Homo sapiens: one gene and its partners. The protein of the gene in region 3 interacts with the protein of the main gene of each other region in a pairwise test. Each region holds a gene or a part of one and is shown on either strand. Other genes may lie near its edges.

Evidence for each region.
Region 1: the proteins of ZSCAN1 (region 3) and NFYC interact in binary tests that used the Homo sapiens proteins (3 or more experiments, as listed by UniProt).
Region 2: the proteins of ZSCAN1 (region 3) and GOPC interact in binary tests that used the Homo sapiens proteins (3 or more experiments, as listed by UniProt).

Annotation. Positions count from the first base shown.
Region 1 is NC_000001.11:40,757,628-40,761,377, reverse strand, and holds part of NFYC (nuclear transcription factor Y subunit gamma), read right to left. Parts: intron 3,258-3,750; coding exon 3,084-3,257; intron 1-3,083. UniProt on the Homo sapiens protein: Component of the sequence-specific heterotrimeric transcription factor (NF-Y) which specifically recognizes a 5'-CCAAT-3' box motif found in the promoters of its target genes.
Region 2 is NC_000006.12:117,574,864-117,578,613, reverse strand, and holds part of GOPC (Golgi-associated PDZ and coiled-coil motif-containing protein), read left to right. Parts: intron 1-1,142; coding exon 1,143-1,166; intron 1,167-3,261; coding exon 3,262-3,437; intron 3,438-3,750.
Region 3 is NC_000019.10:58,036,903-58,040,652, reverse strand, and holds part of ZSCAN1 (zinc finger and SCAN domain-containing protein 1), read right to left. Parts: intron 2,926-3,750; coding exon of another isoform or gene 2,817-2,925; coding exon 2,447-2,816; intron 204-2,446; coding exon 109-203; intron 1-108. UniProt on the Homo sapiens protein: May be involved in transcriptional regulation.

The DNA of each region.
Region 1 (3,750 bases), on a different chromosome or scaffold from region 3:
CTACGGGTCCAGGGAGGTGTGACACAGCACAAGGCCACCCTGAAGCAGCAGGATGGTGAAACAACAGCCAGGAAATGCTGGGAAGGACCAACTTCACCATCCTCACAAGCCTTATCAGCTCCAAGCTGAGCACGTCTGGGTTGGCAGAGAGGAGCACAGATGAAATTCTCGCTGACTAAAAAGAAATGCATGCTGCCAACTCATCACTGTACTGTATCAACCCAATTTTCCCGAGAGGATTTCCAAGGTATTTCTAAATCATTTCAGGAAAATGAGGGCTTGTGTTAGCATGGCAGCTGTCAAATCATGTATGGTGTGCCCTGCTGTCAGGGCACAACAGCCATGAGCTTCTTAGGATGATCAGCCAATCAGAGCCTGCCCTTGGCAGACTCCCTCTAAGTTCATTCTGTAAAGGGATAAAGCCTTTGGCAGGTAAAGTTTTCACCACTGCAGAGGCACAAGCATTAGCCAAAGAAGGTCCCTTAGGCATCATGATACAGTCGAGGCCTTGAGCCAGTGACTGAGCAGCCATTATCTTTGAACCCTCCTGCCTAGCACAGTGTCTGGCATAGAACAAGCACTCAATACATTTTTGTTATATGGATAAGTAAAATGAGCAGAGAATAAATCCTAAAATCATAATTACCTTTTTTTTTTTTTGAGACAGTCTCGCTCTGTCACCCAGATTGGAGTGCAGTGGCACGATCTCAGCTTACTGCAACATCCGCCTCCCAGGTTCAAGAGATTCTCCTGCCTCAGCCTCCCCGGGTAGCTGGGACTATAGGCGCCCGCCACCACGCCCGGCTAATTTTTGTATTTTTAGTAGAGATGGGGTTTCACCATATTGGCCAGGCTGGTCTTGAACTCCTGGCTTTGTGATCCGCCCACCTCGGCCTCCCAAAGTACTGGGATTACAGGTGTGAGCCACTACGCCCAGCCATAATTACTTATTTTTAATTCTCTGTGTGTTTGTTTTTGAGACAAGGTCTTGCCATATTGCCCAGGCTGGTCTCCAACTCCCGGGCCCATGCGACCCTCCTGCTTTGGCCTCCCAAAGTGATGGGATTATAGGTGTGAGCCACCGCACCTGGCCAAATCATAATTACTTAAATCTACCTCCTAACTGGGCATGGTGGCTCATGCCTGTCATCCCACCACTGTGGGAGGCCAAGGTGGGAGGATGGCATAAAGCCAGGAGTTTGAGACCAGCCTGGGAAACATAATGAGACCCCATCTCCACAAAAAAATTAAAAATTATCCAGGTGTGGTGGCACATGCCTGGGAGTCCCAGCTCCTCGGGAGGCTGAGGCAGAAGGACTGCTTGAGCCCAGTAGTTTGAAGCTGCAGTAAGCTATGATTGTGCTACTACACTCCAGCCTGAGTGACGAAGTGAGAACTTATCTTTAAAAAAACATCAATCAATCAATCTACCTCTACTCCATTTTTTTTTCTTCTAGGCAAACTCAGCTCCTTATTAGAATATACGAGGCTGTCCAGGATGTGTTTACTATCTATCTTTCCAAACTTGCGTAGATGGTCCCCTACGCTGACTACTTTCCTACGGCCCCCTGTACTGTTTCTCACCTCTGAGCCTTTGCCTGTGCTGTGCCCTCTACTGGCAATACCACCCTTTCCCACTTTCTTTGATTAATTTCCACTGTTCCCCAAGACTCATATTATTCCCTTCAGAAACATTATCTGACCACCTCGTTCACATCTTTCTCAGCTACTCATCCCCTCCCCTACATACATACACACACATATACATATATATACACACATATATAATACACACACACATACACACACACACACACATATACTTTTTTTTGTTTTTTTTTTGAGACAGGATCTTGCTCTGTCACCCTGGCTGGAGTGCAATGGCACAATCACAGCTCACTGTAGCCTTGACCTCCTTGGCTCAAGCGATCCTCCCAACTCAGCCTCTTAAGTAGCTGGGGCCATAAGAGCATGCCACCATGGCTGGCTAATGTTCTGATGTTCTGGTGGAGACAAGGTCTCACCATGTTGCCCAGGCTGGTCTTGAACACGTGGGCTCAAGCAATCCTCCTGCCTCGGCCTCCCAAAGTGCTGGAATTACAGACATGAGCCACCACATGCCCCTGCCTTTTTTTTTTTTTTTTAATTAAAGAAGAGGTCTTGCTGTGCTGCCCAGGCTGAAGTGCAGTGGCATGATCCTACCTCACTGTAACCTCAAACTCCTGGGTTCCTCCCACATTGGCCTCCCAAAGTGTTGGGATTACAGGCATGAGCCACTGCGCTGAGCCAAGGTACTTCTTTTAATGTGTTCCTTTAACACCCTGTACACATTCCCACGTGGTGGTACAACCTTTAAGTATTTGTATCCCCAACTAAATTGTGAATTCCTTGAAAATAAGGACTGTTTTATTCATGCTTGTATCCCCAATACATAGCACAGAACTTTACCCTCAGAGGATGCTCAGTGTTTGATGAATAAATAATGATTGACAGAGAATTTGGATTCAGAGCTCATAGTACAGAGTTCTCTGCAGCCTCACATGACCCCCAACAAACATGAATGCTACTGCTCTTAACACTACTACTGGGGAGAGAAAGAGTCCTCTGATTACTATCGTAAAAAGAGAAGGTCACTTAACACAAATATGGGACAGAGAAATGACGGGGAGAAGGAGTATGCAACTTGGCAATGATACCTAATCTCTCCCTTTAAGGGCACAAATTCCACTTCTCACACAGACACACAGACAGCAGGCATGGAGTTCACTTTAGCACCTCTACTCTTCATAAGGCATTTCAGACATTTTTTTTTCCCTTCTAAAATTTCTGAGCTAATAGGGATCCTGGAGAACATACTGTCTAGTACACTTTCCTCATTTGACCTTTGAGAAAAACAGGGTCCAGAGAGATTAGGGTAACATCTCACCCCAGTAGCTGAATCTGGGGAAAAGTTCCAGTTTCCAGACTTTAAATCCAGTGCTCTATAATGATCTGGCTGCCTCTCTGCCCTCATCAAGCTCTGCCCATCCAAAAACCTAAGGGGCACTGTCTTGCTGGATGGGCATCCTCAGCAGCTCACAGACCTGGCCCTGCTGAGGCTGTGCGATGATGATCTGCCCAGGCTGGATGGTGGTCGTGGAGCTGGTGGTCTGCTGGCCTTGCTGCTGGCCCTGGACTTGGACAGCGGTGGGTTGCTGAGCCAGCGTGAAATAGTACTGGACTGGCTCGGCAGGAGTTACAGACTGGCGCACCTCCTCCTGTTGGGTGGAAAGAGAGGCAGGTAAGAGGAAAAGAACCAACTCAGCAGCCGCCACAGTGAATTTCCACTCTTCCCCCAAACAGGCTATGTGCAGTTGCCTGCTGAATGCTGAGCTCTCCACATTTGAAGCCAAAGGAAAGTGGAATTCAAAGAGACCAGTTATGCTAAATCAAACTAAAAATAACAGATCCTATAGGCTTCACAAAACATACAGCCAATTTCTGAAGTACGAAATAATCACCCATTGCATGATAAGTTGCAAACGGGCAAATAAGTACCGTAACTAAAAACCACACACCAGCAGTGCTTGTCAGTAAATGCTGTCAAGGCCTGTGATCTGAGAACAGTGCTAATTGCAAGTGTTGGGAAGATGCTACCCAAACATCATGCCTCTCAGGCCTGGTCCCAATCTCCCAAATAGGCAGCACTCTTCTCGTTTTAGCCCCACCACTTCAAGGGGGACAGAACAGGTTAATGGGAAACAGGGCTTT
Region 2 (3,750 bases), on a different chromosome or scaffold from region 3:
ACTGTATCAGTTGGATTAAATTCAGTTGCATATAACAGAAATCCCAAGTAACATTGGGATTATTCTTGAACAGTACTTATTTTTCTCTGAAATGAAATCTGAGACCGGCAGTCTAGAGTTGATACGGCAGCTCCACAAATATTAGAGATCCAGATTCCTTCCATCACTGTGCTCTGCCATTTTTAGCTTATGGTTTCCATCCTCAGGATTTCTTCATGTCTGCATTTCAGGCAGGAAGAAGGATTAATCTAAGGAAAGGGCAAAAAGATGCTTCTCCATGATGTTAGCCTTCTTTAAAGAACTTATTATTAAATCTTTCTCAGTAATTTTTGCCAGCATTTCATTGACCATCCCCAGCTGCATGTCAGTCTCCTATTGGCCATATGGCCACTTCCAGTAAAACTGGAGTCTGTTAATAAGGAAGAAGTAAGAAATGGAATTGGGTACCAACCAGTAGCACATTCTTTTCTTTTGCTCTTAATATATTGTAAGCATTTTTCCTGCCACTGTGTACCACATATGTTTTGAGTGTGTAAGAGATAGCAGATATTTTGTTCCTATATGGGACACAGCAATAAATAAGACAGCTATTGCTTGGCAGAGGCAGGACATGAAATGATGTTGATGATATAATGAGAGTAATACATTTATAAGTTTTATTTGTTTTCAGTTAATTTCATTTGGTTAATTAGTTCCTAGTACTGATGTGTTAAAATTCATGAAAATAATTTTAAGTTAAACTCTTAAGTTTTCTAACTCTGTGAATCTGTGTTAGAAGGGTTTTATTTAACTGAAATAAAAGCTCATAACTGCTTCTTCGAGCTATTTGACATTAACATTCAGAAACAATCTAAATTTTCTCTAGAAAAGAATTTACCTGAAGTTTTAACATTAGAATTTGAAAGAGTATGATGAAAAGAACACTGTACCAGTTATGTTGACTAATTTTGATAAAACAAAAAGTTTTAATCTAATGCTATTACAGTTACTATTGTTTATAGATTGCAAATATATTTGTTCTAATGAACTTTACCCAAATGATATCCAACATGTGGGATTTTTCCTTATAATGACTATACCACTAAATAAAATCATTTGTTTGATCTTTTTCTAATTATAAAACTTTTTTCTTATATCTGAAGTCTGGCCCCTCTGTGGAGGAGCTGGTAAGTATATTGTTTCTGTTTTGCTTTAATATGTCACGCTGAAGTGTTCTTAGTGTTTTATTTGCATATTATATGTTGTCACTCATTGTATTTGAAAATAGCATTAATAATGGCAATTTTTTAATGTTCCAGTACCTGAAAAGTTCAGTGGATGGCCCATTGCTCTTTTCTCACTGCATGTTGTTAAACATTTTTCTTTTGTTAGTGATTTATAGCCATTATTTGCAGAGCCTGTCAATTTTTGACAATTTTTGAGCCTTGTAGCTTGCTCATACCTCTACTTCAAAGAGCAATTGGTTTTCCCACTTCAGGGTATTGAAGATATATCAAGCAGGCTTAGTTTTTAACCCCCTTAAGTTTCTGTTTGAAATTATTTCCAGAAAAGAATGTGCATGTTGGTTTCTTCTTCATCTACTGCGTTACAACTTTTCAAGAGTCTTGAGAATAATCGTATGGCCTTTGAAACAATTGAATTTTGAAATGCTTTAGCAGAAGTTATTTTAGAAAATAACAATACATTTTTAATATTTTTCTCATTACCCCAACCTAATCAAGTTCCAATTTGTCTTATGGCTTTACCTCTTTTGAAGATATAATCTTTGGTATCTAAATGTAAAATGAACATCTTGGGTGTTACCTAGTAACAAACAGGTTAACTAAGAACCAAGAAAATTTTTTTCTGGAAATCTAGAAATGGTTAACTTCAGTTTCCTTCATCTTATTCTTGCTTACCTCTGTTAATTTCGGGCCCAAGAGTTTGTCAGATTCATTAGGGATTTGAATCATTAAAACCCCAGTGAGTGGTAGCTTAGTATGTCTCCCACATTTCATTAATGTAGTATAAATAGCTCATTAAAGTAATTGAAAGTAGGTAATCATCAACATAAAGTTTATTTAGCCCATAAGCCAAAGAAATCTTGGTCTAGGAGTGCTCTTTCAAAAGTTGCATCAACTTTAACATGTCATAAGAAAGATTTTTGTTTGTATCTCCAAACTGGTTTCTTTTGAAACAGATACTTGCCCTTTTAGGACATAGGTTCTGAAATAAGAGTTTAATAATTCCAAAATTATGTTAAAAGGAGGATTCTAGATTGAGTTTTTCGAATCCTTTAAAACCAGTATCTAGAAATTACGTTCTAATCTTTTTTTTCCCAGAAATTGAGTCTGCTAATCTTTCATCTGTTTGTCATATATATAACAAATATTTTTAATCAAAGAAGTGATAAATATATCTAGCATTTAGTAGTTGTCATTAATTTTAGCTTGTATGTGTGTGTGTATATGTAAATATATTTTTTTTAGGATTATCGTATTTATTGACTAGTATTCAAATATATCTATTTTGATGTTGTTCAAAACAGTAGACCAAAGGAGGCACATTAAATTAGTACCAAAATATATTCCATGAATTGCTGAAAATTTGCTTAAATTTGTTTCTTAGCTTCTCAATATCCAGAATAAAAAGGGAAATAATTATGTAAAATAATCAGTGCCCATACAATAGAAACAATACTATTCATCATTTCCTCAAGAGAAACAATTTCTCTGGTGCTAAGGTAGGTTTTTATTTACGTCCTCACAAAAGGGACAAAGGGGGTATAGGGAATAATGTCTTCCACATATTGTGAACAAATGTAACCATGTTTTCATAGGATTTGTGGATTCTGTAAAAGCAGTTCTGCTCAGGATAAATGCAAGTTTTCAGTGTTTACGTGGTTTTTTTGATCTATAAATAACAGTTAAAATGTCTATTGGGGTCCTTATTTAACTCTCAAAAGGGTTTTAGAAGTAAATAGCAGATTCAACTATCCATTGAAGCCACTTTTACTAATATGTGATAACATGAGCTTAGAGTAGACTACTTTTCTTACTATACTCCATATCAGGGTAACCCATGGCGTGCAATTATTTTATCTAGAAGTAGTTCCAAGATGTTATGGTACTAGTTCAAAAGAACTACATCCAGATCTTTGTGTTCCATTTTATAGAGATGATACATTGTTGAACTGTAGGCTTTTGTGCATTTTCAGGAACATGGTCTAGTGCTAAAGAGTTTTTATTTTCATTAAATTATATGCTTTTAAAAATTACATAGGAAAGAGAGCTTGAGGCAAACAAAAAAGAAAAAATGAAAGAAGCACAACTTGAAGCTGAAGTGAAATTGTTGAGAAAAGAGAATGAAGCCCTTCGTAGACATATAGCTGTTCTCCAGGCTGAAGTATATGGGGCGAGACTAGCTGCCAAGTACTTGGATAAGGAACTGGCAGGAAGGTGTGTAAAAAATGGGTATTATTGTACTCTTAAGTGACAAATTGGATATTTAATGAGGTTGACTCTTACTTCTTTCTTTTTTTATTTTTTATTTTTTTGAGATGGAGTCTTGCTCTGTTGCCCAGGCTGGAGTGCAGTGGCATGATCTCTGCTCACTGCAACCTCTGCCTCCTGGGTTCAAGCGATTCTCCTACCTCAGCCTCCTGAGTAGCTGGGATTACAGGTGCCTGCCACCACGGCCAGCTAAATTTTGTATTTTTAGTAGAGATGGGGTTTCACCATGTTGGCCAGGCTGGTCTCAAACTCCTGACCT
Region 3 (3,750 bases):
TGGGGACAACCTCACACAGTCCTTGGATGGGGCATCCTTGAGGCCGTCCCAGAAGCGGCACGCATGCCCTGGGGTGCAGGAGCACGGAGCTGGGGGCCCCGGGCTCACCTGCGATGGTTCTTTCTGGGACCTTGGACTCTTCCCATCTTCCTCCTCACCGAAACTCCAGTCCTGGGGTTCGACCGAGTCCAGAGATACCAGAACTGTGCGGGAGAAAGGGATCGTGAGAGGGGCCTGTTCTTCCCAGAGCCCCCAATTCTCCAGGCCTTCTGGGGAGGGCAGACTTTCCCCGAACATCCCTGCAGCACCCCTGAGGCGCAGGCAAGAGTGGCTGCAGGGCTGTCATTCTGTCCCTCCATGTGGCTGCTGGGCAGGAACCTGTGGTGACACCGAGGGCCGCTGAAGACAAGTACCCTCTTCACTCATACTCCACACCCCTGTGCGCCTCCAGAAGCCCACGAGGACACACACTGCAGCACTGACTAACTAGGGAGGCCCGAGCACTGTGAGCCCTCTGCTCCCCAAGCCCCCCGGGGCTGTGTGCACAGAGTGCACAGAGGACGACTGCTGAAGCAGGGTTCAGGACACCATTGACAGAAGGGTCAAGACGTGGGAACCAGGCCAGGCGTGGTGGCTCACACCAGTAATCCCAGCACTTTGGGAGGCTGAGGCAGGAGGACTGCTTGAGCCCAAGAGTTTGAGAGCAGCCTGGGCAACACAGCAAGACCCCCCCCTATTTATTTTTTAATTAAAAAAAGAAAAATTCAAGATCACGGCCACCTCTGGGGTGTCAGGCAGAGCGGGGGACAACAGGACTAGGAGACGTGCATGGGGGTTCAGCTGATTCCACTGGTTGTTCCTTTTTTTTTTTTTTTTTTTTTTGAGACGGAGTCTCGCTCTGTCGCCCAGGCTGCAGTGCAGTGGCGTGATCTTGGCTCACTGCAAGCTCCGCCTCCTGGGTTCAAGCGATTCTCCTGCCTCAGCTTCCTGAGTAGCTGGGATATAATATAGGCACGCGCCACCACGCCCGGCTAATTTTTGTATTTTTAGTAGAGACGGAGTTTCACCATGTTGGCCAGGCTAGTCTCGAACTCCTGCCTTGTGATCCGCCTGCCTTGGCCTCCCAAAGTGCTGAGATTACAAAGCATTTCCTAGGTTGGGCTTTGATAAGGGTGGGTGGCCGGTGCAGGGCTGTTCATTATACTTGCTCTACTGTTTCATAGGCTCAAAATATGGAATGTAGAAAGCAGACCACCGCTATGGAAGACAGATAGAGAGCCCTTTGCTCAAAAACGTTGAATTTTGAGAGTGACCATGGAACATTAAAACTAGCAAGGGTGGCTCTGGGCTGGGATGGCTGTGAGGTCCACAGAGCGCCAGAAGCCAGTGCTCTTGGGCCCTCTACCCCAGGATCAGAGAGTTCAAAGGGCCAATTCATCTGGCTTCTGCCTTGCAGCTTACAGGGCTACCCTTGAGCCTCTGGAAAGCTCAGCTGTCACAGCTTTCCTAAGTGTGGCACCGGCTGCCCTGGGGCAGTAAGGGGACCCTGGACCCTGTGTTCTGCAAACTGCTTATCACTGTTGGTCTACGGAAATGCTGTAGTGGGAGGGTGCAAAGGGAGGGCCTGTTCCTCTCCCTTGCTCCACCCCTCTTTTCTGTGAGCTCTGATGCAACCCTTCTCACTCCCAGCCTTTGCTCCTGCAGCGTGGCTGCCTGGCACCCTCCTTGCTGGGGCCCTGCTGGGGAAGCCCTCCCGAGGCCACAGTGCCACGACTGCTCTCACCATCCGTGGCTGCCTCTTTTGGCCTCCCAGTGTCCAATCCCTGCACTTTTGTCACTAGGAAAGAAAGAGCCCCACTCATGGGACTGGGCCCTGGGTGGATGGAATCTCGACGTGGGGTCACAGGGGCAAAGATGCAGAAGGACAAAGCCCTGTCAGGGGAGAGGGGAGCTGAGAGAGGAGACAGGGAGGGAGCCCAGTTTCAACCCCAAATTTCCCAGCTCCCAGAGTCGGGATGCAGACCTAAGCGTCTCTCCCCACCATCAGCCAGCGATGGGGCCTGCGCCCTGTGAAGGCTTAAGGATCTCTAGGATTCCTGAGTGTTGCAGGAGGCGCTGCAGGTGGCTGGGAGGAAGTGGCGAGGCAGCGTCCTTCCCAGAGAGCAGCCGTGAGGAGCAGCAGACACAAAGCCACAGGACAGATGGACGCATGGGAAATGGAGGGATCTTTAATCACCGACTGAGTGAGAAATTCGAGGCAGATGAGGCGTGCAGCACATTTATATGTAAAAATAATTAAAAACACAGCCGCGGGGCAGGAGAGGTTTGCTGGTCGGGAGGGGCCGGGCAGGGGTGGGAGCGATGTGGGCGGGAAGGAGGGCAGTTCGGTCCTCGGAGACGTCAGGCCCCCTGGCCCGGCCCGGGGCAGGAAGCCTGCGCCTCTCACCTTCCTGCTGGCACATCTGTGTGAGGTCCTCCACCAGGCTGGCGGCCTCCCTGCAGCTTCGGGGGCCCTGTGACTGCACCCAGGTCCGCATCTTGCTGGGCAGCGCGCCCAGGAACTGCTCCAGCACCAGCAGCTCCAGCATCTGCTCCTTGGAGCGCGCCTCGGGCCTCAGCCACTGGCGGCACAGCGTCCAGAGCTGGCCCAGCGCGAGGTGCGGCCCGCTCGCCACGTGGTACTGGAACTGCCGGAAGCGCAGACGCTGGGCTTCGGTGTCCCTGGGGCTTGCTGGCCCAGGGTCTGCGTCCTGCTCACTCGGGGTTGGGGTCTGGGGGCGTCTGGGGGAGGCAGGGGCTTTGGGCCGTGGAAGCATTTCTCTGGCCACAGTGCCCCTCTGAGGGGTGTGTGTGGACTGGATCCCGAGTCCCAGTGGCTCCGGACAGAGCCGGTGTGGCAGGCGGACAGAATCAGCAATCAGGGGCCTGCAGAGAGGGGCAGGGACAGAGGGGTCACATCAGATGGTGGCCCTCTGTACTCAGGATGCCCCTCGGCTCCTTACTTCCTTGTTCTGACCTCCAGCACCCCAAGGAACCAACCTGACCTCTTCCCACCTTCTGACCTAATCTTCCACATGCCTCTCACAGGCTACTTTGCACTGAGTTCAAGCCACTGGCTGCCCCAGGACCTTTGCACCTGCCATCCCACCCCAGCCCCTCCCCTTCCCACCCCAGCTCCTCCCCTCGCAGATGTCCTGGCCATCATCCTTATGGCACTGTCTTCATAACCTCCATGACTTTCTGAACACAACTTTTCCCCTTACTTAGTGTCTATCTCCCTCTCATTTAGTCATTCAACACACATTGACTGACGAGCTGCGGGAACAAGAATGCCTGCCCCGTGGTGTGGCCAGCACTGCCCAGTGAAGTTCCTACAGGGATGTAAAGATTCTCTACCCATGCAACCACCTACGTGTGGCTAGGAGCACCTGAAATAGGAACTGAATTTTAAATTTAAATTCCATTTAAATGGAAGCAGCCAGGTGGGCTACATAATAATGGATGACACCACCACCAGCAGCAGGTCTACCCATGGTGTTATCTTTGCTGTCTTCCTGACTTTCCTACCAGGTCCAAGCTGGGGGTGGAGACCAGGAAGAGGGCAAGGGAGACTGGAGACTCTGAAAAGAGAGGGAAAGTGGGAAGAGTAATTTTAAAATAACCTTTTGTGGCCGGGTGCCGTGGCTCACACCTGTAATCCCAGCACTTTGGGAGGCCCGGGTGGGTGGATCACCTGAAGTCAGCAGTTCA